Linked DNA regions of Homo sapiens: all the other regions are reported to be linked to region 3. Evidence: microRNA targets listed by miRTarBase, many of them from high-throughput screens and not tested one by one. Region 3 holds a microRNA gene; each other region holds the end of a gene's coding sequence.

What was found. Region 3 holds the annotated microRNA hsa-miR-329-5p (GAGGUUUUCUGGGUUUCUGUUUC, at 5,163-5,185, shown strand). A microRNA usually pairs through its seed, bases 2 to 8, with sites in the 3' UTR of a target mRNA and lowers its output. Matches are read on the target gene's strand: a 7mer-m8 pairs with bases 2 to 8, a 7mer-A1 pairs with bases 2 to 7 and ends in A, and an 8mer does both.
Region 1: the mRNA of USP36 is a reported target of hsa-miR-329-5p. Seed matches in the 3' UTR shown: 7mer-m8 at 3,568-3,574.
Region 2: the mRNA of ZNF439 is a reported target of hsa-miR-329-5p. Seed matches in the 3' UTR shown: 7mer-A1 at 1,261-1,267.

The regions. Positions count from the first base shown.
Region 1 is chr17:78,792,506-78,799,697 of GRCh38, reverse strand. USP36 (ubiquitin specific peptidase 36) reads left to right here. Exons shown (of 21, transcript NM_001385174.1): 18 at 1-31; 19 at 675-790; 20 at 1,147-1,298; 21 at 1,819-4,046. The coding sequence ends at 1,278. Among named protein-coding and RNA genes, the nearest start is that of CYTH1, 14 kb to the right of the region's middle.
Region 2 is chr19:11,867,715-11,874,906 of GRCh38, forward strand. It overlaps ZNF439 (zinc finger protein 439), which reads left to right. Exons shown (of 4, transcript NM_001348719.2): 4 at 1-1,772. The coding sequence ends at 855. It also overlaps the pseudogene VN2R14P. Among named protein-coding and RNA genes, the nearest start is that of ZNF69, 16 kb to the right of the region's middle. RefSeq lists an enhancer at 4,880-5,174.
Region 3 is chr14:101,021,635-101,028,826 of GRCh38, forward strand. MIR329-1 (microRNA 329-1) reads left to right here and starts at 5,151; the gene lies at 5,151-5,230. LOC124903407 (mucin-2-like) reads left to right here. Exons shown (of 5, transcript XM_047432049.1): 5 at 1-7,192. It overlaps MIR379 (microRNA 379), which reads left to right and starts at 432; the gene lies at 432-498. It overlaps MIR411 (microRNA 411), which reads left to right and starts at 1,691; the gene lies at 1,691-1,786. It also overlaps MIR299, MIR380, MIR1197, MIR323A, MIR758 and MIR329-2.

The DNA of each region.
Region 1 (7,192 bases), not on the chromosome of region 3:
TACTCATCTGATAAAGCTTACGGGAGAAAAGGTACTGATTTGGAGACAGGACTTCTGTTTGCCTTTCATTGGTTGGTTTTGTAGGAGGGAAGGGTGTGGAATGGATCCTGGTGCACTGTGAGTGTGGCGGGCGGGCATCGCTCGGCTTTGAGAATGGGAAGAGGAATCTCAACACTGGCTGGAGTCCTCTTTAAACCCTCAGCCGTGGCACGAAGGTGGCTTCTGTCCGTGGCAGGATCCAGAACAGCTGCTTCTGAGGGTTGGGGCAGGGTGAGGAGCCCCACACATGCTGTGTCTTGGGTAGGGAAGGGGCAGAGTGACGAAGCTCTTCCAACCTGGGTAATGTCACTTCTTGCTCAGAGCATGTTTTTATTCAGACTTCGAGACCAAACATGACATCTTTGTTCCTCAGACGAGGGCATGGGTTTAGAAAGAACTGAACTCTTTGGCTGTGGTTTAGGGTTTAGCTAAGAGGGCATCGCTGGGGGTTCCATGCTGACCGACCACACATGGGCGTCGAGCCGTCCTCCTCTTGTCCTTCTCTTCACCACAAGGTGGCACTCAAAATTGTTGACTAATTATGAGTAGACTAGTTGGTAAATGACACTCTTGAAGTGAAGCCACAGGGGACCTGGGAACCTGCACTCGTGCTGACCCCCGTGTCTGCCTGGTAGTTCTGACCTGGGATGGCAAGATGTCGGCGGTCAGTCAGGATGCTATTGAAGACAGCAGACAGGCCCGGACTGAGACCGTGGTTGATGACTGGGACGAAGAGTTTGACCGAGGGAAGGTATGATGTGTGATGCTGACCACAGGCTTGAGGGAGCAGGGCGGCGTGGCTCAGCTCAGAGCCGGGGCAGTTGGAGGTGGCGGCAGTGGCATGAAGCGGCCGAGCATGAGAAGAGCCAGGCTGCCCAGGCCTGTCCGGGCGTGTGGCCATGGACAGGGCATGCATCCTCGCAGCTTCCGCCCCTTTGTCAATAGGGGGACTGCAGGTCGCCGTGCACAGGGGTCATTGTGAAGAGTGGGTCTCCAGAGAGCTCATGAGAGCCCGGCCTGTGTGCAGGACCTGCATGCAGCATGGAGCCCCGTGGGCCAGGAAAGAGCCGTTTTTGGGAACTGTGATGCCTGTGATTCTTGGTCTAGGAAAAGAAAATTAAAAAATTTAAGAGAGAGAAGAGGAGAAACTTCAACGCCTTCCAGAAACTTCAGACTCGACGGAACTTCTGGTCTGTGACTCACCCAGCAAAGGCTGCCAGCCTCAGCTATCGCCGCTGACTGTGCCCCTGTGGAAGGAGGTCGGTTCCGAGGGGGTGGGTGTAAGGGTGAGGTGGGGGTGTGTGTGCCGTGTATGTGTGTAGGGGTGTGGTGGGGTGTGGCGTGTGTGTATGATGTATGTGGGCTGTGTATCTGGCACATGTGTGTTGGGTGGTGTGTGTGGTGTGGGCGCGTCTGTGGTGTGTGTCCTAGTCACTTGGAGAAGGGTGTGTGTGGGATGCGTGTGTATAAGGGGGTGTGTGTGGGATGCGTGTGTATAAGGGGGTGTGTGTAGTGTGTGTTGGGTGTGGGGTGTGTACACCTGGCATCTGTGGCATGTGTTCTGGTCACTTGGAGAAGGGCATGTGTGGGGTGTGTGTGGGATGTGGGTTGTGTGTATATCTGGCATGTGTCCCAGTCACTTGCAGAAGGGTGACTTCTTGCCAGCCGCATCGAGATGCCATGCATTGGGTTCCTAGGTTGGACTCATACCCGAGGGTGGCAGTGGGAAGATTCGGGTCTCGTTTCTCTCTGTCAGGACTACCGTGGTTTGTTCTGCAGCCTCCTGGAGACAAGGCGTCCCTTCCCGGGAGCTGTCGGTCTGGATCTGAGGGAGCTCTCTGTGTGGGCTCTGCTGCGCTGGGAGCCTGTCACGGTAGGAGCTCTCCCGGTACCAGTGTCCACAGACCGCCCAACACAGAGGCTTTGAGGCTTCTCTAGATCGGAACCTCTTTGGTGACATTCCCGACCAGCCCTGCAAGAGAAACGACAGTGTGTGTGTGAGCAGAGGTGGCCGCACACCTGCTGGACATCTTTGCCAGGCTGTGCCTTCTCATGTTTCATAGACAGTGGTCTGTGCTGGCAGAGGCTGCTGCCCCTGGTTGGGGCTATCAGGAGAGTGGGGGATGGTGGCCACATGTCCCCCAGGTGGTCTCCCGGTGCATAGCTGGTGGCTCTGGGCAAGCCATCCCTTGCTTCTCGGGGCTGACGCCACCGTTGTGTCCGAGCCCGCCCTCCCCTGCTTCCTCAGCGGGACCCCTTCATCTGTTGGCCTTACCTGTCCTCAGAAAGGAAGAGGTGACCCCACCCAGCCACCTCTCCCTTTTATGGAACTCGAGAGGGTGGCCCTACTGTGCACCCCTTCCTTGTGAGTAGCTCTCAACTGTCCTGGAGAGCAGAGGCTATTTGGGGTCGGAGGAGCCCTCGATACCTGCGAATACATCTGCTTTCCAGGCTGCTGTTTATTCTGAGACGACTGTGCTGTAGCTTCCCTTGCAGCTGCAATAACCCGCAGGTCTTCACTGAGGTGGAGGCTTTGGGGTAGAATTCTCCATTTATTTTACTACTTAATACAAAACATTTATTTTTGACCAGTCCTGTGGCTTCCATTAGCAATATGTTTCCTTTCCCAAATATGCAAATAGTGGCTTTGTTTGCTCAATTTTGTGAGTGCTTTGGAATTTAAATGATTGTATAACTCAAGAAGATTACTTTTCTATGTTGCTCAAGCTGTGCCTGCCAACTTGTAACTTAATAAATACAGGAAATCCTCAGAGAAGGTGATATTTTCAGGAAAAAGACAAATGCCCTCATAGTAGTGGGAAGTGTGAAGGTGACCGTGAACATCCTTCCTCATCGGGTCTGTCCCCGTCATTTCCTCCCGGAGTCGTCGCAGGTGGAGATGGACAACGTGGTGTTGGACTTAGACCTCCTTCAGTGTGGCTCTGCTGGGCCAGAGGCATCCTGCTGTCCCGGGTGGCTGCCTCGCTGTCTGCACCCCCTCTCCCTGGGGCAGCTTTGCTTCCTGCCCCTGTGCTCGGGGCCTGGGTGGTTACTGGCGTGTAGATGGAATTGCTTTTTTAATATGGGAAGATACATTTATTTTTTTCCATGTGGGTGGGTGTCTCTTTTTGGATTTTCTTCTGTTTTTACGTTTCTCTTCTTAGAAGGGTGGGAGAGAATCAAGCTCCTGTGGCCACCTGTGTCCCAGCAGCAGTGAGTGGAGCTGCTCAGGGTGCCCTCTCCTGCGGACCAGTCTCTGAATGTTCAAAGATGAGGGCCTGGCTTCCGTGCTCTGGCTTTGTAACTTATCTGGAAGGGAAAGCACATGCCTTCACGGGCAGGGTATGTTCCTTTTCTTCTCGGGGTGTTGACTTGCATTCCTGTGTGAACTGTTCCCTCTGCCATGTTTACCGTGTGATGTTCTGTAGTTGAAAATGTTAGTTGTCTGCTGGCACAGAATTTATCTCGTTCCTTTCTCTCCCTTCTCTCCTCCAAATCAGTCTCTTCCCTTCTCCACTAGATAACTGTAAAACCTTTTCCTGGGGTACATACATTCGTTAACTCTTGGGCAGTGGTGAGCACGAGATGACTTTCTGCAGCGTTTATCACTGTTGGGTGGAGTCACGTCCCTTCCCTCCACCGAAGTCATCAACCAGATAGGGAAGGGAAAGATGAGGCCCAGAAAACGAGTTCAAACTCTAGGTCTTGTACACGTATGTAAGTAAATGTCAATAACCCAAGCCTTTGTCATAGCAGTCACTTGGTTGACTTAGGATCTGGGTCTGTTGAATTTTGTGCTTGGGAATGGAGCTGGAGGGAGTGGGGCCTGTGTACAGCAGCTACCTCTCCCAGGTCCTCTCACTTGCCTGCCCCGCGTCCTGGTTGCATGGCCGCACCTGTGTGTGTGCAGAGGTCTGTGTCCCATCCTCTGCACCTCCTTTCCGGGGGCCTGGGGAGCCCCACGTGTTGCCAAGATCTTGGTGCAATAAAATACTCCGGTTTTGTGAGTTCTGTGTCTTTGTTGGTTTCATTTGATTTTTTTTTTTTAAAGTACATCCCAACCACAGTCTCGCTGATTCCACCTGTCCTGGAAGTTGAGGCTGGGCTAGGAGGGGCAGGTAGGTCCCTGCAGGGAGCTCAGTGACCAGGAGGTTATGAGAGCAGCCCTAGTGAATAGGTGACCAAGAGGCTGAATGAACCCCGGGGCGCAGGCGGGTTGCCGTGCAGCGGCTCCTGTTGAGAATGCTGCTCTGCAGCTGTTACCTGATGTGTGTGGCTCCCCGCATCTCCCTTTAGCAACTTGGAAGTAAGCTTTCTCCACCCCACGGTATCCACCAAACACAGGGCATCATGTCTTCGCTTCTCTTTAGGGGTTTGGCTGGACACCCCAAAATGAGGACAGCCAAGTAAGAACAAGCGAGGTGAGGCAGCTCCTGCATCCAAACCAAAGGGGTGGCAGAGAGCAGGGCACACTGCTGACCCAGAGGCCTTCCTGCCAGCCAGGCTGTGTCTGAAGGCATTTGCGTTGTAGCCTGGGCAGCGGTTGAGGGGGTTCTGAGGCTTGGAGAGGTGGTGATCTGACACCAACGCTGGGTGCAGTGGCGACATGGGCGAGGCTGTGGTTTTTACTTTTTTTTTTTTTTTTTTTTCCCGAACAGAGTCTCCCTCTGTCGCCCAGGCTGGAGTGCAGTGGCACGATTCTCCGCTCACTGCAACCTCTGCCTCCCGGGTTCAAGCAATTCTCCTGCCTCAGCCTCCCAAGAAGCTGGGAGTACAGGCACGCATCACCACGCCTGACTAATTTTTGTATTTTTAGTAGAGATGGGGTTCCACCATGTTGGCCAGGCTGGTCTCTTAACTCCTGACCTTGTGATCCGCTTGCCTCAGCCTCCCAAAGTGCTGGGATTCCAGGCGTGAGCCACTGCGCCTGGCTGATCTCCATCTCTTGACCTCGTGATCTGCCCGTCTTGGCCTCCCAAAGTGCTGGGATTCCAAGTGTGAGCCACCGCGCCTGACAGGCTTTTCCATTCTTAACTGCCGTTTCCCAAACACTAGGGCCACTTCTGGGTGTGTATAAAAGTGAACACACTCACGTCGTCTCGCAGGCGGCGGGCAGAGTCCCACCGGCAGGACTGACGGCTCCAGGGCAGGGTGAGTGCTGTTAGGGAGATGCAGGGAGGCCATGAGGAGCCTGTCATGAGCTCTGCCTGAAGCACCGTGGGGTGAGGTGACATTCTGAAAGGGGGCTGGCAGTGGGAGCTGGCCAGCAGGACTCAGCTGGCTAACTGTAAGTCAGGTGCAAAAGCGCAGGGCAGGTTTTGTTTGACAGTTTGGACAAGAAGGGTTACCAAGGTCTGATGTGCTTTTTAGACTCCTGAGGCTGATAGTGGATTCCAGGCTGCCTGATGGCCTGAAAGGCGGCTGGTGGAGTGCAGAGAACAGCAGGTGAGCATGACCAGCCGCCAGGTTGGCTGAGAAGTGGCCAAGGCTAGAGCTAAGAGATTGGCATTAGTAGCATAGGCTAGAAGTGAGGTCACTTGGATATTTAGGAGATGGACTCAAGAGGTGAGATGACAGATAGGGTGGAATGTTCTGGGTGGAGTTTAAGATGATTTCTGCTAGGGTGGTTAGTTGGGTTCGGAGGCCAAGTAGTAGCCAGGGAAGCAAGCGGCTCACCGATGGTTTCAGGAAGGCCTTCAGGTGGTGAGAGATTCAATCTGACTTAGTGGACGTGTTGGCATCTTACCAGTACAGGGAACCCAGGGAGAATCCTAGGCATGGGAAGTAGGCAGTGGGTGAACTCCGAGTCTTCTAGTTAGGAAAAAGCCCAGGTGTCTGGACACTGGGGAATCAGGTGGGCATCTGTTTATCCCTAACATACTGTTAGGGCTCATCATAACTGTAATAGTGACCTTAAGGGCAGTTTAACACTGGACGGTGCTGTGAGAATCCCTGCCTCAAGTCTTGGTAGCTTGGACAACCTCAGCGCAATGAGGATGTGGGTACGCCAAGGACGTGGTGGTAAAGGAGGACTGTGTGTGGACAGGTCACGTGACATGCAGACGGGCAGCTTTCTGTGTCTTGTCAGCTGAGCTGACTCCCTGGAGTCACACTCTTGCCCGGAGGTGGCCCTGCTGCTGCTTCGTGCAGATCCCGCCTTGGCTTGGCCCCCTGCTCCTTCCATATCTGGACTGGGGATGACCCTTGGAGAAGATCATCTGGGTGCCATGGATTCGGCTTTCAGGGCTGTCTGGCTGCCCTTCTTCGTTGGGCTCTGCCTGCCTTTTGGGATTTCTGCCCTTGGTCTTCAGGCAACTCCTTCCTCTCTCTCCCATTCTTTTCAGTGATCCCTGCACACTATTTTGCTCTCTCATTGCATATGTGCCCACTACTCTTGGTAAGTGACTTCCAAGGCTACCTCAAGAATTCCCATCCCACCCCAAAATTAAACAACATGGGGAAACCAAAGCTAAAACCAGCTCCTCTCCCTCTGTTCTCTTCTCCTTCTTACCTCAGGGTTCTCAATGCTCATAGGGCAGCAGGAGCACCTGGGGAGAGGCATTCGATACTGACGGAAGTAGAATCAGAATCTATGGGTGAGGCTTAGGCATCAGCATTTAAAGCCTTCCTGGGGGGGTGAGGGGGGCGGGCGCGGTGGCTCACACCTGTAATCCCAGCACTTTGGGAGGCTGAGGCGGGCGGATCACTTGAGGTCAGAAGTTCGAGACCAGCCTGACCAACATGGTGAAACCCTGTCTCTACTAAAAATACAAAAATTAGCTGGGCTTGGCCTGTGCCTGTAATCCCAACTACTTGGGAGGCTGAGGCAGGAGAACTGCTTGAACCTGGGAGGTGGAGGTTGCAGTGAGCCAAGATCATGCCACTGCACTCCAGCCTGGGCGACAGAGTGAGACTCTGTCTCAAAAACAACGACAACAAAAAAAACCTTCCCGGGGGGATCATAGTGAGCAGCAGAGTTGAGAGTTGCCATCCTGGTCCCTGGTCTCAAACTCAAGTGAGCACCAGAATTGCCAGGGGCTCCTTAAAACACCAGTTGCCGGGCTCCTTCCCCCGCATTCTGATTCAGCAGGTCTGGGATGAGGCCTGAGAATGTGCATGTCCAATAGTCCCCGGGGCTGCTGCTGGGCAGACC
Region 2 (7,192 bases), not on the chromosome of region 3:
TGTAAGTTTTGTGGGAAAGCATTCCATTGTCTCAGTTTATATCTTATCCATGAAAGAACTCACACTGGAGAGAAACCGTATGAATGTAAACAATGTGGTAAATCTTTTAGTTATTCTGCTACCCATCGAATACATGAAAGAACTCACATTGGAGAAAAGCCTTATGAATGTCAGGAATGTGGGAAAGCATTCCATAGTCCCAGATCCTGTCACAGACATGAAAGGAGTCACATGGGAGAGAAGGCTTATCAATGTAAGGAATGTGGAAAAGCATTCATGTGTCCCCGTTATGTTCGTAGACATGAAAGGACCCACTCTAGGAAAAAACTTTATGAATGTAAGCAGTGTGGGAAAGCATTATCCTCTCTTACAAGTTTTCAAACACACATAAGAATGCACTCTGGAGAAAGACCTTATGAATGTAAGACATGTGGGAAAGGCTTTTATTCTGCCAAGTCATTTCAAAGACATGAAAAAACTCACAGTGGAGAGAAACCGTATAAATGCAAGCAATGTGGTAAAGCCTTCACTCGTTCCGGTTCCTTTCGATATCATGAAAGGACTCACACTGGAGAGAAACCCTATGAGTGTAAGCAATGTGGGAAAGCCTTCAGATCTGCCCCAAATCTTCAATTGCATGGTAGGACTCACACTGGAGAGAAACCGTATCAATGTAAGGAATGTGGGAAAGCTTTCAGATCTGCCTCACAACTTCGAATCCATCGTAGGATTCACACTGGAGAGAAACCCTATGAATGTAAGAAATGTGGGAAAGCCTTCAGATATGTCCAGAACTTTCGATTTCATGAAAGGACACAAACACATAAGAATGCACTCTGGAGAAAGACCTTATAAATATAAGATATATGGGAAACACTTTTATTCTGCCAAGTTATTTCAAACACATGAAAAAATTCACACTGGAGAGAAACCCTATAAATGCAAGCAATGTGGTAAAGCCTTAATTGTTCCAGTTCCTTTCGATATCTAAAAGGACTCACAGTGGAGAAAAACTCTATGAGTGTAAGCAATGTGGGAAAGTCTTCAGATCTGTCAAGAACCTTTCAATTTATGAAAGGACACACACTGGAGAGAAACCCTATGAATGTAAGAAATGTGGAAAAGCGTTCCATAATTTCTCTTCTTTTCAAATACATGAAAGTTGCACAGAGGAGAGGCGCCCTAAGAATGTAAGCATTGTGGGAAAGCATTCATATCTGCCAAGATCGTTTGAATACATGCAAAACACACACTGGAGAGAAACCTATGAATGTAAGGAATGCAAACAAGCATTCAATTATTTTTCTTCCTTGCATATACATGAAAGGACTCATACGAGAGAGAATCCGTATGAATGTAAGGATTGTGGGAAAGCATTCAGCTTGCTTAATTGCTTTCATAGACATGTAAAGACACACCAGAAGGAAACCCTATGAATGTAAGCAATGTGGCAAAAGCTTTCACTTCTTCCAGTTCTTTTCAATATCATGAAAGGACTCACACTGGGGAGAAACCGTATCAATGTAAGCAATGTGGGAAAGCCGTCAGATCAGCCTCAAGACTTCAAATGCATGGAAGCACTCACACTTGGCAGAAACTCTATGAATGTAAGCAGTATGGGAAAGCCTTCAGATCGGCTAGGATTCTTTGAATACAAATAATGAATGTAAACAATTAACTGTTTATAATAACTGTATACTAACAAATGTTATTCTTTTTAAATAATTAAGAAGCTATAATAAAATATCCATTGGTGTCATGTATTAGATCAAGCTTATAATGTTACATTGTTATTATTTGGATATTGTGAATCAGCATTACCTGGATTAAATGCCAGGCATATTTTTCCTCATGTAAACTTTACTTTTCATGCTTATGTACTTTAATTTTTATTTCAACTGTAATTTTTCTTTTTTTTTCCTTTTGCTTTTTCTTTTTCTTTTTTTTTTTTTTTTTTTTTTAGAAAGAGCCTCACTCTGTTGCCCAGGCTGGAGTGCAGTGGTGTGATCTTGGCTCACTGCAATCTCTGCTTCCCAGGTTTGAACAATTCTCCTTCTTCAGCCTTTTGAGTAGCTGGGACTACAGGCATGCACCACTTCACCCAGCTAATTATGTGTATTATTTAGTAGAGACGGGGTTTCACCATATTGGCCAGGCTGGTCTCGAACTCTGGACCTTGTGATCCTCCTGCCTCGGCCTCTCAAAGTGCTGGATTTACAGACATGAGCCACTGCGCCCAGCCTCAACCCTAATTTTTCTTTCACTCATAATACCAAAAGTTATCTCATGTATCTCTGAGTACCTTCTTGCCCAAAACCAGCAGCGCCATACCTGCTGTCAGCAAGGGTGTAATATACCATAGTGATAAATATGACCAGAAGACATAAATGACTGTGGGATGTATGAGAATTACAAGTCACATTGGTAAGAAGATAAAAATTTTCGTCATGTTTATGATTTGAAATATGTTTACTTCTATCAGTTTTAGAAATACAGTTACAAAATGCCCTTGTTTTTGTCCTGGTCCATCATGATCACTGAGGAGCATCATCTCATATGCCTGATATGTAACATGTGTCTCTCCAACAGTAAAAGACTTGGCCTTGGCTGGGTGTGGTGGCTCACACCTGAAAACCCAGCACATTGGGAGGCTGAGGCAGGCAGATCACCTGAGGTCAGGAGTTCGAGAACACCCTGACCAATATGATGAAACCCTGTCTCATCTAAAAATACAAAACTTAGTCAGCCATGGTGGCATGCTTCTGTAATCCTAGCTAGTCAGGAGGCTGAGAAAGGAGAATCACTTGAATCTGGCAGGCAGAGGTTGCAGTGAGCCGAGATCCCATCATTGCACTCCAGCCTAGTCAACAAGAGCGAAACTCTTTCTGAAAAAACAAAAACAAAAACAAAAACAACTTGGCCTTGTGGTGAGGGGAGGTCAGCTATAGACTTCTGGACCTGTTTTTGCCTTACTTATTCTGTAAAGACTAAAACATTTTCTAAAATGTATGGGCACTGTTAACTAGAAGGTACCTTAGTTAAAATATATAAATTCATTTACGCTTTATAAAGCTATATTTTTTTCAAATTGCTTTACTGAGTCATAGGAGGCTAATAAATTTGTGTAAATTGTCTAAATAAAAGCCTTTCTTCCTCTGATAATGTGCTGTTGATGCTAACTTGTCAACAGCCTGCTTATCTCAGCAGTGTAAAGTTAACGGTAACATGGAAAAGTCACTTTTATATATAATGCAATGGCTAGAACAATTCTGTCACTTCCTGTAAGGTCCAGTGAAGCTGCTCTTCAGAAACAGTTATTTAAAATCCTTATAGTCTAAATCTAGGCACCACAGGATGCAGAATCAATCACTGACCAAGCCCTGTCTGTGTGTGGAGGTGACACACCCAGTCCCAGATAATGTATCCACATCAGTGAAGGGAGGAGTCATTGATTGTCGGATCACACAAAGTAACTCAGAACAGGGAAGACAGGGCAGTGAAACCTGGCCAGGCATGGTGGCTCACACCTGTAATCCCAGCACTTTGGGAGGCCGAGGCAGGTGGATCACTTGAGGTCAGCAGTTCAAGACCAGCCTGGCCAACATGGTGAAACCCTGTCTCGTCTAAAAATACAAAAAAATAGCTGGGCATCATGGTGTGTGCCTGTAATCCCAGCTACTCAGGAGGCTGAGGCAGGAGAATCGCTTGAGCTTGGGAGGTGGAGGTTACAGTAAACTGAGATCACACCATTGCTCTCTCCAGGCTAGTCGACAGAGCGAGACTCCATCACACACACACAAAAAAAGTTGGGTGCACCTGAATCCAACCCCTGCCTCATCCTTCTGAATTGAAGGCCAAATGCACCCTGATACTTTTCACCAAAGAGTAGAAACAACACCATTCACTTGACCCCAAATGTGACTTTCCACAGGATGCAAGCACAGTGTTGGAATAGCCAATGACAGTGACAATAGAAGTGCAGGGTGAGGGTGATGAACAGGACACACTGGAGAGCCTGACATTAGGCTAGATATTGGGGTGTCTTGATGCTTCACAAAGAGCCCAAGGAGCACCCCAAAGAGGACACTGGAGCACAGGCCCAAAGGATCTTCGTATGCCAGGAAGGCCACTAATTTTGGAAGTCAGTGATGTTGGTGGGTTTAGCTTTGGGAAAAGAAATAGGGAAAATCTTTTCTTACAGCTTGAGAAAAATGAATAAACTTCCACAACAAAGTATAGTAGATAAATTGGTGAATTACAAAGATTTAGCAAAATATCAGTCCTCCTTTGCAAGTTGGAGAACTTGTAACAGTGGATAACTCTTCTCTTCCTATTATTTGTGAGGTAACACCTGGCTGGCAACTGTTGTCATATGTTTGTGTTCACATGTGATTAATATGTAGTATGGGCTTTGTTATCATGGAAATCATAATGAAATAATATTGTCCACCTTAATAAGATAACAAGATTCAGAGAAGATGATTAAATATTGAGTATTTCTGAGCACAAAGTTTGAGGATAGCCACTGGGGAAACAGATATCCTGAAGAGTGGGGTCAGTGCTCCAACACGGGGAAGTTGAGTCTTCACTTCTGTAGGGCAAAATGTAGACGCTTAACAGGGTGACATTTTCCATACAAGGCCAGTGCACACATTTCAGTGATTTGGTTGGTTGCAGCTACCAAATTTCAATGATGATTGCCTTAACTTTTTGTAAGGAGGGGTAGTGGTCTCAAAAGGATCCTACCTCTGTCACTTCCCACTCTTTTCTAATCATTTACAGCCCAAGAACAACAAAGATAATTAATCTTTTTGATATTCACAGGAAAGGAGCTATTACATGGTAGTGTAAACACATTTCTCAATATGTTTATTGACTGAAAGGGTTAGATACTTTTACTTTCCCTCATGAGGGATGAAAGGTAAGTACCTTATAATTTCCTTCTAGCCTATAAACATAAACCGAGTTTGAGAGATTTTGCTGGATTCTTCAAACGCTGGGTATTTTCTCATTGAAACAGAGGCCAGAGTCCAGTGACTGCAAGCTAAGGACAATGAGAAGCCTACAAAGAGAGGTTATTGAAAGCTCACGTCAGGCGGTGACTCACACCTGTAATCCCAGCACTTTGGGAAGCTGAGTCGGGCAGATCATCTGAGGTCGGGAGTTCGAGACCAACCTGGCCAACACAGCAAAACCCATCTCTACTAAAAACACCAAAATTAGCCAGGTATAGTGGCTCATGCCTGCAGTTCCCAGCCATTCAGGAGGCTGAGGCACGATAATCGCTTAAACTCTGGAGGCAGAGGTTACAGTGCACCAAGATCGTGCCACTGCACTTCAGCCTAGGTGACAGAGCGAGACTCTGTCTCCAAAAAAAAGAAAAAAAAAAAAAGCTCTCACTTGGTTCTTCCCATGGTGCCCCCACTGCAGGTGTACCAGCTACTCACGTTGACCATGGGAGGAGCCCTTTATAATAAAAGAATCTCAGAATCCTGGAAAGCTGGGGATCCACAGGCAGATGCAGTAGTCAGTGATGCCGTGCGCAAGTGATAATTTTTGTCATGGGGCTTTTTCTAGACACTTCTAGTGAAACAAATGTGGGTTTAGGTAAGAAATAACTTTTAATTCTAGACCTTGAAGTCAGCTTGTCATTAAAAGAGGTCATTTAAAAAAAAAAAGTCTAGGTACTGGACTTGTAAGTAAAAATAAAAAGATTAAATACCTAAAATGGGGTTGTATATAGGCTTAGAAGGAGTCAGTCAAAAATTCAGGGGCTGCTGGGCGTGGTGGCTCATACCTGTAATTCCAGCACTTTGGGCAGATCACTTGAGGCCAGGAGTTCAAGACCACCCTTGAAACATGGGTGAAACACCCAGCATAGTGAAACACCATCTCTATAAAAAAATACAAAAATTAGCTGGGCATGATGGCACACACCTGCAACCCCAGCTACTCCGGAGAATGAGGCATGAGAATCACTTGAACCAGGGAGGCAGAGGTTGCAGTGAGCCAAGATCATGCTACTGCACTCCAGCCTGGGCTACAGAACAAGACTCTGTCTCAAAAAAAGAAAAAAAAAAAAAAAAAAAAAAAAAGTTCAGGGACCTGGAGGAAGGAGAGAAACTGAAGCATGCTTTGATTAATAGATATTTCATTTTGACTGATCACTAAAGACAAAGCTATTCACCTAATGGTTTGTGAGGTGAATACTGGAATTTCTAGTCTGTGTCTGGTTTGTCATAGGTAACAAACGTGGCATCATCTAAGTCATAAGGGGAAGGGTGTTTTGTTGTAGTAAGGTGCTCTTGCACAACACAAAGGATGGGGGATTTCTTGAATCACACCTCTTTTCAGGATGACCCACCCACCCCCATCTCCTTTTCACACCCCTTACTCTCTTTGATTTGGCTGCTCCTGAGTTGTATCCTTCATAATAAGTTGGTAAATGTAAGTGAACTGTGGGTAGTTCTATCAAATTATGGAACTTGAGGAGGCTGTTGTACAGGACCCAGGTCTAGATGCAGTTGCTGAGAAGTACAGGTGGCCCCTGGGGCTTTGAGTGGCATCTGCTGAGTGGGGCTGTGTTGGGTGAGCCAGGAACTCATGGAGTCTCTGCTAACTCTGGGTGGCTTCTGAATTGAGTGGTTGCATGACTGCTTAGTGCTGGAGAATTCGCTGGTGTTCAGCAAGCACCACACATTTGGTGTCAGAAAAAAAGACAGCATAGGTCAGAACCTTCCACTGACTCACAGTGAGCGAGTGGTCTTTGGTGGGCATTGAGACCCCGGTGGAAGGACTGTGTCCACACTGTGGGGAGGGGCCAGCAGGGTGTGTGTGGAAGTCCCAGAAGTAATTTTCTGGCTGCTCACATTTCCCTCACACACTACCTAAGAGTGGGCCAGCCTGGCCTGTGTCTCCACAGTCCCAGTGGTTCCTAAGCTTGGGAATGTGTAACTATTGGAGTGTGGGTTTCCTTGTGAGCTGTGGGTGAGGCAGGCTGCCTACCTGAGCTGCCTCCCTTTTGTTTCTTTTACAAAATCTTGCTGCCATGGAATTGCTCTTTCCCCACGCCTCTGAGAATTTATTTTATTTTATTTACTTATTTACTTTATTTATTTATTTATTTTTCACACAAAATCTCACTCTGTCGCTAAGGCTGGAGTGCAGTGGCGCAATCTCGGCTCACTGCAAC
Region 3 (7,192 bases):
CTAGAGCATGGCGAGGACCATCGGAACTTGGGTGAGCTAGGGAAGTTTTTACCTAGAGGTTGAGGGTCCCCTTTTATATGATGAACTGTGCTCTTGGAGTGTCCCATTTGCCATGCAGAACAAAACACTGCCCTTTATCTTGATGAAGAGATAGTTGACCACATAATGGCCAAAGCATGGTCAGTATTGTACATTTTGCCTTGTCGCAGTCTTTCCAAGTTGACATGGCCTTCCTGGAGGAATTACCACTTAGGGTAGAGGCACCCCTTCCCCCATCAATGCCACTGCCCCACATTGGAGGAGGGGTTGTTTATGTTCACCATGTGCCTGCTTCCAATGCCAAATCCAGCCTCAGAAAGCTTTCTGGAAGTGACGCCAACTTCAGGGGCAAGGCCCTGGTTCTGGGGTCAGCACCATTCCGTGGTTCCTGAAGAGATGGTAGACTATGGAACGTAGGCGTTATGATTTCTGACCTATGTAACATGGTCCACTAACTCTCAGTATCCAATCCATCCTCGGAGGGCTTCCTGGAGGTGTTGCCAACTTCAGGGAAGAGAACACGTGGTTTAGCTTCAGCACTGCTCCACGGCAATTTCTGTGGCTCATGGTTGATGTCTGACTTGTGCAACAAGGCCTGGCTCTTCTGGGCACTAAATGCACTCTCTGGGGAGTTTTCTGGAAGTGATGCAACTTGGGCTCAAGACACCGGTTCCAGCCTCAGCCGTGGTTCTGGAAGAGATGATTTGCCATGTGGCCTGTGCGAAAGGAGGGATTTGTGTGAGATGGGCTACCACTTCCCAGTAGCCTGCCAGCTTTGGAGGGCTTCGTGGAGCCAATACTACCTTCAGGGGGACCCACCAGTCCATCCTTCATTCCGCTGTGTGGCATTGAAGAGTTGCTTTCCTGTGTTGAAGTTTTCTGTTTATACCAATGTCCACCTCTGATCAATCTTACATTCAGTCTCAGGGTTTTCCGGAGGCAGTGCCAAGTCTGGGAATGAGACAGTGGTTCTGTCCTTAGGGAGGTGGTTGACCAAAACAACTCCTGCTTTGTTCATGAAGATGGCATGGTGGTTACTGCTCAGAATCTAATCCAACCTAAGAGGACCTCCTGGAAATGCCCTTGGTATTGAGGCAGATATGGCCTTAGGGCACTTTTTTTTTTTTTTTAATGCCCAAGACTAGAGCTCACTAATAGGTAAGATCTGGGCCTCAGGTGCCCAGTACTGTTTCCTTGGCCTGGTTAGTGTAACTAGATGGATGTTCTTTGGTTGCACGTGGGCCATTTTGTATTTCTGATTTTCTCCCCACTCCCCTAACCAGCTCTGTTAGCCATGTGCCATGTCCTCCCTCCCATCTACCCACTCCTTCAGACCCAGCACAGTGCGCCTGGCACACAGCAGGCACTTAATCAGTATTTATGGAGTGATGAAATCCATATCATCGTCCACTTCTTCTCAGTGGGACTTTCGGCCTCGAAGGGCTTCCTGGAGGAGTTGCCAGTTTTGGGGATGAGCCACTGCTTCGAGCATTCATGTCAACCCCCGACCATGAAGACGAGACTCCTGGCCTGTGTGTGCTTGTCGCATGATGCATGTGCTGTGCTCAACCTCCCTTCTGGTTCCACCCAGCTCAAGGCCTTGGAGGGCTTTCTGGATGTGTCCTGAGCCTTTGTCCTCGGCATCTCTGTGTGGTACTTGGAGAGATAGTAGACCGTATAGCGTACGCTTTATCTGTGACGTATGTAACACGGTCCACTAACCCTCAGTATCAAATCCATCCCCGAGGCTCCTGGAAACAACGCTGTCTTCGGGGAGGAACGGTTGGACCCACCACCACTTCTCCATGACACCCGAAGAGATGATTTTCTGTATGGCATGTGTTTTTCTGCATGATGCAAAATGGCATAATCTCGCTCCTCTTAAATCAAGTTCTGCCTTGGGAAATCGCGCCATCCCTGGGGAGGAGACCTTGATTCTTCCCGGAATCAGTGCCATTCCATGGTGCTCAATGACGTGGTTGACTACGCTACGCTTATTCAGTAGACACCGTGACCTGCTTCTTCTCAGCGTCAAATGCAGCCTAGAAGAAGCGCCCTCAGGCAACTTCGTGGACATGAGCCTTCTTCCAGCCACCACCACCACCATCGTGCGGTACTTGAAGAAATGGTTTACCGTCCCACATACATTTTGAATATGTATGTGGGATGGTAAACCGCTTCTTGGTATCCAGCCCAGCCATCCAAACCTCCCTGGAGAAAGCCTGGAGTTAGAGGAGAGCCACGGGTCTCGGCATCCGCCATGCCATGGCACTTGGTGGAATGGTAGACTCTTAGATGTGTGCTTTCTCTGTCAATGCTTGTGATGCGGTCTTCTCCTCAGTGCCAAACACAGCCTCCAGTGACTTCCTCAGGACAAGGATGACCTCCAGGAAGGTGTCCTACTGCCCACGTTGGCACATCCCTCTGGAGTAATTGAAGAAACGGTGGCTGGTGCCGCAAATGTTCATGAACGAGGGATGTGAAACAGGTCACCTCTCATCCTCAGAGCCCTCCTCAGATGACTTCAGGACAGTACGCCCATGTAGGAGCAGATATGGGTCCAGGAGATGATGCCACTCCAGGTACTTGAAGACGCACTGACTCGTTTTTGTCTTTGCTGATGCGTGTACAGTCTATCTTTTTTCCATCTCAAGTCTAGCCATCTCGGGGGAAGATGTCCCAGCTCTGGACTCAGCACTGATCCTCATGAAGAGCTGCTCGACCCCATCGTGTATGTTTACAGAGGAAGTGCCTCCATGGCCCACTTCTTCCCTATCTCCATCCCAGAACCCTTGCTTGGAGAACTTGCTGAAGAAGCTGCCAGCCTCAGGGACAGAGCACTGGTTCTGGCCTCTTCACTGACCTCACGGTACCTGAAAAGGGTTCAGCCACACTGCATGTCTTTTCCCCATGACGTATGTAACATGGTCTACTTCTTTTGAAGTATCCCATTCAGCCTGGAAAGTCTCCAGGGAGGTTATGTTAAGCTTAGGAGACAAAGCACCAGTTCTGGTACAAGTACTGCCTCGGGGTACTTAGTAGAAGTTGGCCATGCTTCATATGTTTTACTTACAACGCATGTTACTTCGTCCACCTTCCTATAACAGCGTGCACCTCGGGGGGCTTTCTGTAGGCAGGAACGAGTGTCAGTCATAGCACTAGTTCCAGCATCATCTCCATTCTTGAGGGGCTCCTTTGTGCTGCGTCCACTGCATCTGCGGCAGACATTGCATGGTGGCCTCTTCTCAATACTACATCAGGCCTCAGAGGGCTTCCTGGAGGTGATGCTAGTGAGAGGAAAGAGACACCGGCTCTGACCTCAGCCCTCTCCAAGGTACCTGAAAAGATGGTTGACCATAGAACATGCGCTATCTCTGTGTCGTATGTAATATGGTCCACATCTTCTCAATATCAAATTCAGTCATAGAGGGCTTCCCAGAGAGAGGCAAAGTCACCTTCGTGGGAGACACACTGATCTGGCTTCAGCGCCATTCCACAGTACTTGGAGAGATGGTAGAGCATAAAGCATATGCATTGTTGAATGACAGATGTAGCATGGTCCACTCATTCTCAGTATCAGCCAGCCCTGGGGCTTCCCGGAGGCCATGCCGACTTGAGAGCCAGGCCTGAGTGGTAGCCAGGGTGCAGTGCAGGTCACCGGGTGGTTGGCTGCAGACCCAGTCCTTTATTTATTACATTGGCCATTTGGTCCACCAGCCAAGAACTCAGTACCGGTCCCACCCTTACAGGGCATCCTGGAGGTGGTAGTGGCATTGGATGTGGGTTTGTGGTCATTGCCACATTGCCGGTGGCTGGTAGTTCATGATGCGCATTGTGAGGCTTTCTGGAGGTGATAGCAGGTGAAAGGAAGAGAGCCAGGGGTCAGCGTCACTTCCTGGTATTTGAAGATGCGGTTGACCATGGTGTGTACGCTTTATTTGTGACGTAGGACACATGGTCTACTTCTTCTCAATATCACATCTCGCCTTGGAAGACTTCCAGGAGGTGATATCAGCTTTGCGGAAGAGCCACTGTCCTGGTGTCAGTACGGCTGCTGCTTGGTACTTGGAGAGAGGTGGTCCGTGGCGCGTTCGCTTTATTTATGGCGCACATTACACGGTCGACCTCTTTGCAGTATCTAATCCCGCCTTGCAAGCTTTCCTGGAGCTAACATCAACTGCGGGGGTGGGGGCCACTAGGTCTGCGCTCAGTGTGACCCAGCGGGGTTTGTGATGTGTTTGTCTTGTGTGTGACGATAACTCACGTGTGGCAGCCTTCTTCTCAGCACACTGCTCTGGCTTGGCAGCAGGGTTAACTTGCGGACAAGGAGCGTGGTGTCAGCACGTGCCTGGATACATGAGATGGTTGACCAGAGAGCACACGCTTTATTTGTGCCGTTTGTGACCTGGTCCACTAACCCTCAGTATCTAATGCCCCCTTGGAGAACTTCCTGGAAGAGGTGTCAACTTTTTGGGAAAGAGACAGTAAACTGGGGCCAGCTGCACTCTGTTAGACTCTGAAGAGAGCATCTGCGAGGCGTTTGCGACATGTATGCCAAATGTGGCTGAGTTGGACTGATTTTCACTCCGATCTCTTTCCTTGGAGGGCTTCCTAGATGTGGAGGCATCCAAGTTCAAGGGAAGGGGCATGCTGTCTATACCATCCCAAAGTCCTCCAGTGATCAGCTGACCTGAGTGTATGCACTTTAATTTACAACCAAGGTCGCCTGGCCCGTCACACCTCAGTCTCCACTGGGTCCTTAGCAGGACCTTTGGTGGAGTCAGCCTTGCTTTGGGGCATCTGTGCCTCTCTTGAGTAACTGAGAAAAGATGGCCCTGGAGGTTAACCCTAAACGCGATAGCTGCTGTGACCAGCCTTTTTATGGCATCACCACCTCTGGCTGTGATGTCAACTTCCAGACGTGATGTGGGGTCTGCTCCACTGGGGTACTTGGATAGATGGTTGGCAAGCAGCATGCATCCAACTCTTGGCTTCTTCCGGCAAATCAACTAACTAACGCTCAGTGTGCAATTCCATATTTAACAGGACTTCCAGCACTGAATGTCAAGTCTGGGGAAGAATCAGTGGTGTTCTTGTCAGTGTTAATCAGTGGTACCTGAAGAGAGGTTTTCTGGGTTTCTGTTTCTTTAATGAGGACGAAACACACCTGGTTAACCTCTTTTCCAGTATCAAATCCCATCTTGGAGGCCTTCTGGTCCAGACCTCAGCTTCAGGGAAGGGCGTTACTCTCAGCTCCAGTCCACTGGACAGAAATCTATGGTTAACCACGAAGCCTGTGCTGTATTATTTTGACTGATGTCATCTGTTCTACTAACCCCAGTGTCCAATCCGTATTTAACAGGACTTCCAGGACTGAATGTCAAGTTTGGGGAAGGAATCAGTGGTGTTCTTGTCAGTGTTACTTGGTGGTACCTGAAGAGAGGTTTTCTGGGTTTCTGTTTCTTTATTGAGGACGAAACACACCTGGTTAACCTCTTTTCCAGTATCAAATCCCATCTTGGAGGCCTTCTGGTCCAGACCTCAGCTTCAGGGAAGGGGTGCTGTGGACATAAATAAGGAGACACGAGCAAATGGCTGATCACTAAGCGTGCCCCATGTTTCTGAATTTTGCCACCGATTGCGCTAACCCTCAATGTCTTATCCCTTCTTAGGAGGACTTTTCAATGTGATGGCAGCCTGGGGGAAGACAGTGTCACCACGACAGTGTCACGGAACATGCAGGTGAGTTGTCTGTGGTTGCCTTCGTTGTGCTCCCAACGGATCGTGTGTGTAATTCAGGCTCTTTCGGCATCTGACCCTGCTGTAGGGGGATGCCTCGTCCTTGCCACACTCAGTGATGGGCTTGAATGAGCCCAGCCCACAGCAGGGGAATGCCAGCATGCCCTGGACAGATAGTGCAGGTGTCCTGCACGCCTGCCCCTAGCCTGCAGTTTATTCTGAAAGGATGTCCTGGATATAATGACACCTTAGGGAAGAAAAGCTGATTCTGAGGTCAAGAGGAGACCTTGGGGGCCCTGGAATTGGCCCAGGTTGAGACCTGTTTATTTCTCACAGGAATTGTGGAGTTGACTTCCTTTAAATCTGGAGGAATCCTTGATGTCATGCCAGCTTGAAGGGAGGGCATTGTCACCAGCCCTGATCCAGGGGAAGGGAGTGGATGGCCCACCACGGGGCATGTACCTCCCCAGGAACACACCTGCTCCACTGACCAGCACATCTGACCTACCCTCAGGGTTGTGTTTCTGCAGATGGTCCTTCTTTGGGGTGCTCAAGGAGAGGTTTCCTTTGGCATATCTGTTTCTTTTATATAAATCATTTCTGTGGACCACTCTTCAGTATCAAACACCAGTTTGGAAGGCTTCCGGATAAGACAGTTGTCAGGCCCAGGCCAGGGTGAGTGGGCCGAGATGGGTGCTTCCCCTGTTCTAAGCGTCCTGTCTGGCAGTAATGCTTGGTGCCCGATCCTTTCCAGGAGGACTTCCTGGAGGTGATGCCAGCCTCTGGGGAAGGAAAAGGCTCCCTGCCAGCTCTAAAGCCAAGGCACAGAAGTAGGTTTTGCTGGTGCTGCATTTGTTTTGATGGCACTTAGCTGTGACTGTGGGTCCTCGGCTCATCTGTGGCATTTGGGGATGGGACTGTGAGGGAGGAGGGCCTCAGGTTCTGGAGAAGGGCCAGGTATTTCCATGTCAACCCTGCTTTTTATAACCAGAGAGAACATATGAGGTAGCACCAATGACCTCCGCCACCAATCCTTCCTATTAGCTGATACCCAAACACCGTTCCTTCCAGCCGAAAAGAGCCCTCATAAAGAGAGGGCAGAGAGAGTGTGTCAAGGCCATGTGACAGCAGGCAGTATGCTGTTGCCTCCGGGGTATCCAGGGTAGGCGGCTGCTGGGTCCATGTAGATTGGGTGCTCTGCTGGCTACGGAGGGGTCAAAGGACAGGTGGCAAGGGTGCAGAGCCGCAGCCTGGCCCTGGGATTTTCTTCTCAGACCTCTGCTCCGGGGTCCACCTTCGGGGGAAAAGAGGGCACAATTTTACAACTTTGTAAGAGGAAACCTGAAGTTTTCTGACCCCTGATTCTCCCCAGCCCTGTCAGGATTGATCTAACTCTCTGTTGAGATGCAAAAGA